2 separate regions of the Homo sapiens genome follow, and region 2 is linked to region 1. Evidence: fine-mapped expression QTL. A gene starts in region 1. The other region holds a variant in brackets. All regions are shown on one strand. Distances are between the middles of the regions.

Region 1 (2,905 bases):
GTGGTGGCGCGTGCCTGTAATTCCAGCTACTCAGGAGGCTGAGGCAGGAGAATCGCTTGAACCTGGGAGACGGAGGTTGCAGTGAGCTGAGATCGTCCCATTGCAACCCAGCCTGGGCAACAAGAGTGAAACTCCATTTCAAAAAAAAAAAAAGAGAAATGGGGTCTTGCTATGTTGGCCAAACTGGTCTCAAACTCCTGGCCTCAATTGACCCTCCCACCTCAGCCTCCCAAAGTGCTGGGATTAGATGCTTGAACCACCTGCCCAGCCTGGTGGAGTTGGAATCATTCAGTCAGCAATTCCCACCTTGAATAGTGCCAAGGACACAGTCATTAACTCCACCACCAGGTAATAACCTAGGCTCTGCTAAGGACTTGTGACTTGTGAAGCAATTCATTCAATAGTCAAAACAGATGAACTGTGTAAACTGGGTAAATCCCAATCTATCCTTAAAACAGCCCTGAGGGGAGATGCTACCGTTAGATATACTTTACAGACAGGAAAAGAGGCTCAGAGAAGTCAAGTCACTTCTCTGAATCCACAGTCAGGAAAGGACCCCGGATTCTGCTCCAGAGGAAGGAGAGGTTTAGACAGGAGTGGCCCCGGACCTGTTCTGTTATAGAAGGTGGCATCTTTCTGATAAATGCGGGGGTCCTTCTTCTTCAACAAGGAGAGCGTTTTGTAAAAGTCCCGCTCCTGCTGGGGATCAAATTCCTAGGGCAGGAAAAGGGTTGGGGATAGATTTCAGAAGGGAGATAATAAGAGCCCTGGCGCCAGCAGGTGAGCTCAGCGTAGGGATTAGGATGGAGGGGGGTGGATCTGGCTGGGGAGGTCAAACAGGTGGTCAAACAGCAGGAGGGAGAGGGGCCCTCTTGGGGTGGGCAGGGGCAGGCCACAGGTAGGTACAGGATATGGGTAGAGGAAGGTGAGGGGCAAGGAGAAGGTAATTCCTGGGGAAGACAAAGACTTGACAAGGGGCAGGTGGGCTGAGGGCACAAGAGAGACAGCGGGGAGGGGCTGGGCCAGGCCGCACAGTGGGGCCAGGATCAGGGCTGATGTGAGAAGTTGGGCGCCCCACGTGGCGCAAGGAGTACACTAAAAAATGGCTAGACTCTTGAGGATGAAAGAGGAAAGGGGGGGTTCTTGGGGGACAGAGTCGCCCCACACATCAGAGTGGGCAGGTGGGGATCGTGGCAGGGGAGAGAAAATAACGGGGATTTGGCTCCCCTGGGGAGAGGGGGGGCACTGTCTGTCCCTCATGGGATGGGGAGCGGAGGATGGGACGCTCCCGCAGGGCGCTCTGGGGTTGGGGGTTCCCCCCCGTCTACATCGGGGTCGGGGTGCAGAGGGGGGCTTGGACGCCTCCGCACGTCCAGGACGGGGCGGGGACGCGCACCACGCGCTCGTCGCTTGAGTCCGACTCGGAGCTGGAGTCGCTGCTGCTGTCTCGGTCCCCGTAGCGATCCTTCACTGCGGGACACAGACGGGATGCCCCCCCCCAGGTCAGCCGGCGGGGCCACTCGACTCCCCACTTCCCAACCGGCCGGCGCGCGCAGGCTCCCGCGCGCATGCGCCCCGCACTCACGCCGCTGCAGTTCCTCGCGCTCCCGGTAGCGGTTGTACCGCGCGGCAAACGCCGCGTTCACCCGCAGCTGCGACGACCCGCGCGGTTCCGGCATGGCGGTTCTGTGGCCCATTGCGCACGCGCATTGAGGAAGCCCTGGACGGGGCGGGGCCGCCCTCAGTCCCGCCCGCATCCACTTGTAAACGAGGCGTACCGCTGCTAACCCCGCCCCTGGCTTTTCCGGGATCCCTTTCGCCTCATCACCGCAGTCACCGCCCACGGCTACGCCCCTGCGGGGAAGGCCGCGGCCACCGCCCACCCGCCCCACCCCCTGTGCTCCGGGCACCCAGCTGACATCTGGGGGCCCTTTCTCCACTCGCGGTTTCCTGCTTCCCTTCCGTTCCGACAGCGAAAACCGCTGCCCCACCCAGCTCACTCACCCTGGCGCCCTGGGAATTACTATTCTCTCCCCTCACCCACCACATCCACGATCCGCGACCCCCGTCCTCATCCCCATCAACATCCGGGATGTGTAACTCTCCATCCCAGACTCAAAAATCAGAAGCCACCCGTGCTGTGATCATGCACAAGTCTTAATTTAATGGGTAAAAACATTAAATTATTACAACATTTTTTCCAATAAAGCATAATAAATAGAATCCATTTCTTTTAAAACGCTGTACAAGAGACTGGAAAACAAGCTTCCAACAGAATATGAATAACTCATAACTCATTCTACCTTCTTATTGATTTGGGACGCTCCCCCCACCCCCCATGCCTGAAGCAACGTGCACACTTCAGGTCTCTGAGCACAGCCGGCCAAGGCCACCAGCTTCTAGGCTCCCTGGAGGTCATGACTTCACTCTTAAATGCTCTGCCCTTGGGTCTCGTCTGAGGCCCCAGCAGCCTGAGGCGCAGAAGAAACTGAACCGTTTAGGTGGCTGTGGCCTGCAGGAGCCCTTCTCTGTCCAACACACCAAAAGGAGTGAGAAAAACAAATGAGAAACGTCCCCCAAACACTCACACCCCCAAAACCAACACCTATAAGCCACAAACTGTGCTCCTCCCCTACTGCAGCAGTGGGCAGGAGAAACAAGAAGAGAAAGTGTTTCTTCCCCTCTCTTCTGATACATAACCCCACGGGGTTCTCTTGCTGGAGAGGGTGACCCCAGATCACAGCGGGGCCACCATGTGGCCCTGCAGGATGTCCACGAGGTCCTGAGCCCCTCTCTGCAGTGCCAGCTCCAAGGGTGTGAGACCCCTGGCGTCCCTGCGATGGAGATCAGATTCAGCTGCCAGAAAGCTGACCACAGCAGTGTGACCCTCTTGAACTGCCAGATG
Region 2 (2,905 bases), 57 kb before region 1:
TAGGAAGAGCACACCAGAAAGTGTTCTCTCTTTCTTTTTTCTTTTCTTTTTTTTTTTTTTTTTTTTTTTTGAGACAGGCTGGAATGCAGTGGTGCCATCTCCACTCACTACAACCTCCGCCTTACAGGTTCAAGCAATTCTCCTGCCTCAGCCTCCTGAGTAGCTGGAGTTACAGATGTGTGCCACCACACCCAGCTGATTTTTGTATTTTTAGTAGAGATGGGGTTTCACCATGTTGGCCAGGCTGATCTTGAACTCCTGGCCTCAGTTGATCCACCTGCCTCAGTCTCCCAAAGTGTTGGGATTATAGTCATGAGCTACCTCGCCCGACCTGCTCTCTGTTTCTTTCCCCAACATGTGGGAACACAGTGAGAAAGCGGCTGTCTGCAAGCTCAGAAGAGAGTCCTCACTAGAACACAACCATGCTGACATTCTCTTTTTTTGAGACCATGTCTCGCCCTGTCGCCCAGGCTGGAGTGCAGTGGAGTGATCTCCGCTCACTGCAACCCCTGACTCCTGGGTTCAAGCGATTCTTCTGCCCCAGCCTCCGGAGTAGCTGGGATTACATGCGCATGCCGCCACACCCAGGTAATTTTTTGTATCTTTAGTAGCAACGGGGTTTCACCATGTTGGCCATGCTGGTCTCAGATTCCTGACCTCGTGATCCACCTGCTTCGGCCTCAGTGCTGAGATTACAGGCGCGAGCCACTGCTCCTGGCCTTTTTTTTTTTTTTTTTTTTTTTTTTTTTCCGAGACAGAGTCTCGCTCTGTAATCCAGGCTGAAGTGCAATGTCGCGATCTCAGCTCACTGCAACCTCCACCTTCTGAGTTCAAGCAGTTCTCCTGCCTTAGCCTCCCCAGTAGCTGGGATTACAGGCACCTGCCACCACGCCTAGCTAATTTTTTTTTTGTATTTTTGGTAGAGACAGCTGTTTCACCGTGTTGGCCAGGCTGTTCTCGAACTCCTGATCTCAGGTGATCCGCCTGCCTGGGCCTCCCAAAGTGCTGGGATTACAGGCGTGAGCCACAGTGTCCGGCCCCAGGCTGCCATTCTGATATTGGACTTCCTACCCTCCAGAACGATGCAAAAGTAATTACTGGGACTTAAGCCACCCCATCTAGGGTATTTGTTATGCAGTCCAAGCTGACTAAGAGCAAGACATTACAAAATGTGTGGGTATTGCCAGGCGCTGTGGCTCATGTCTGTAATCCCAGCACTTGGGAGGCCGAGGCAGGTGAATCACTTGAGCTCAGGAGTTTGAGACCAGCCTCAAAAAAAAAAAAATTAGCTGTGTGTGGTTGTGAGCT[G/C]TGTTGTGGTTTTGAGCTCTGTGGTTGTGAGCCAGGTGTGGTGTGGGGATATTTGGTCCCAGCTACTACACGGGAGGCTGAGGCAGGAGTAGTATTGCTTGAGCCTGAGAGGTGGAGGCTGCAGTGGGCCATAATTGTGTCAAATGCACTCCAGCCTGGGCAACACAGCAAGACCCTATCTCAAAAACCAAACAAACAAGAAAATGTGTGGGTGTGCAATATTTTTGCAAGATATACTTTTCAAAAAAATTTTTTAGACAGGTCTTGCTGTATCACCCAGGCTGGAGTGCAATTGTACAATCATAGCTCACTGCAGCCTTGACCTCCCAGGCTCAGGCGATCCTCCCACTCCAGCCTCCCCAGTGTCTGGGACCATAGGCATGTGCCACTGTGCCCGGGTGATTTTTTTTTTTTTTTTAGATAGTGTCTCACTCTGTTACTCAGATTGGAGTGCAGTGGCATGATCTCGGCTCCCTGCAACCTCTACTTCCTGGGTTCAAGCAATTCTCATGCCTCAGCCTCCTGAGTAGCTGGGATTACAGGAACCTGCCACAACGCCTGGCTATTTTTTGCATTTTTAGTAGAGACGGGGTTTCACCATGTTGGCTAGGCTTGTATCTAACTCCTGGCCTCAAGTAATCCTCCCGCCTTGGCCTCCCAAAGTGCTGGGATTACAGGCATGAGCCACCATGCCCGGCCCACCTGGGTGATTTTTGAATCATTTCTAGAAACTGGGTCTCCCTATGTTGTGTGGGCCTATCTCCAACTACTGGGCTCAAATGATCCTTCTGCCTCAGCCTCCCAAAATGCTAGGATTACAGGCGTGAGCCAACATGCCCTGCCAAGATATACTGTTAAGTCAACAAAGCAACATGCAGAACAGTGATAAATTTGTACAAAAAGACAGGAGGTGTATTTACATTTCATTTTGGCAAGGTGAATCCACAGACTAGCTCTGGAAGGTCCCCAGGAGTCCCACTGTGATCGCCACAAGGAAGGGGAACTGCGTGCTTTTTTTTTTTTCTTGAGATGGAGTTTCATTCTTTTTGCCGAGGCTGAAGAGCAATGGCATGAGCTCGGCTCACTGCAACCTCTGCCTCTTGGGTTCACGTGATTCTCCTGCCTTGGCCTCCCAAGTAGCTGGGATTACGGGTGCACGCCACCATGCCCGGCTAATTTTGTATTTTAAGTAGAGACGGGGTTTCCCCATGATGGCCAGACTGGTCTCAAACTCCTGACCTCAGGTGATCCGCCCGCCTCGGCCTCCCAAAGTGCTGGGATTACAGGTATGAGTCCACTGCGCCTGGCTGAACTGGATGCTTTTTAAATTTTCTAGAAAACTCATAAGCAAGTGTGCCTGTGTTCCAACTGGTTGGTTTCCCGTGTGTGTGGCCTCCAGGGGCACTCTGAACGTGGCCAGCAGGGACTTGGGGTCCCCCCAGTCTGGGACACCTGTCCCCAAAACACCGCTTTTTTTGAGGTTGCCTGCAGTTCCAAGGTTTCCCGGAAGGTGGAGCGCTGCAGTCTGAACCCGAAGCCAGACGCCCCCCAACCCGGCCCCAGGGCCCATCCAGCCGTTCAGGGGTCAAGAATGCGC

What was found. PIP is the estimated chance that this variant, and not a neighbour inherited with it, causes the effect.
Region 2: its variant is the best candidate, but not a certain one, in a credible set for the expression of KRI1 in whole blood (TOPMed, PIP 0.77).

What each region holds. Positions count from the first base shown.
Region 1 is chr19:10,564,321-10,567,225 of GRCh38, forward strand. It overlaps KRI1 (KRI1 homolog), which reads right to left and starts at 1,690. Exons shown (of 19, transcript NM_023008.5): 1 at 1,586-1,690; 2 at 1,397-1,470; 3 at 609-714. The coding sequence starts at 1,679. It overlaps CDKN2D (cyclin dependent kinase inhibitor 2D), which reads right to left. Exons shown (of 2, transcript NM_001800.4): 2 at 2,140-2,905. The coding sequence ends at 2,738. RefSeq lists enhancers at 795-1,362, 1,111-1,160, 1,363-1,930, 2,879-2,905 and a silencer at 1,431-1,960.
Region 2 is chr19:10,507,591-10,510,495 of GRCh38, forward strand. No RefSeq gene overlaps it. Among named protein-coding and RNA genes, the nearest start is that of KEAP1, 5.7 kb to the left of the region's middle. The variant G/C (reference allele first, on the strand shown) is at 1,309.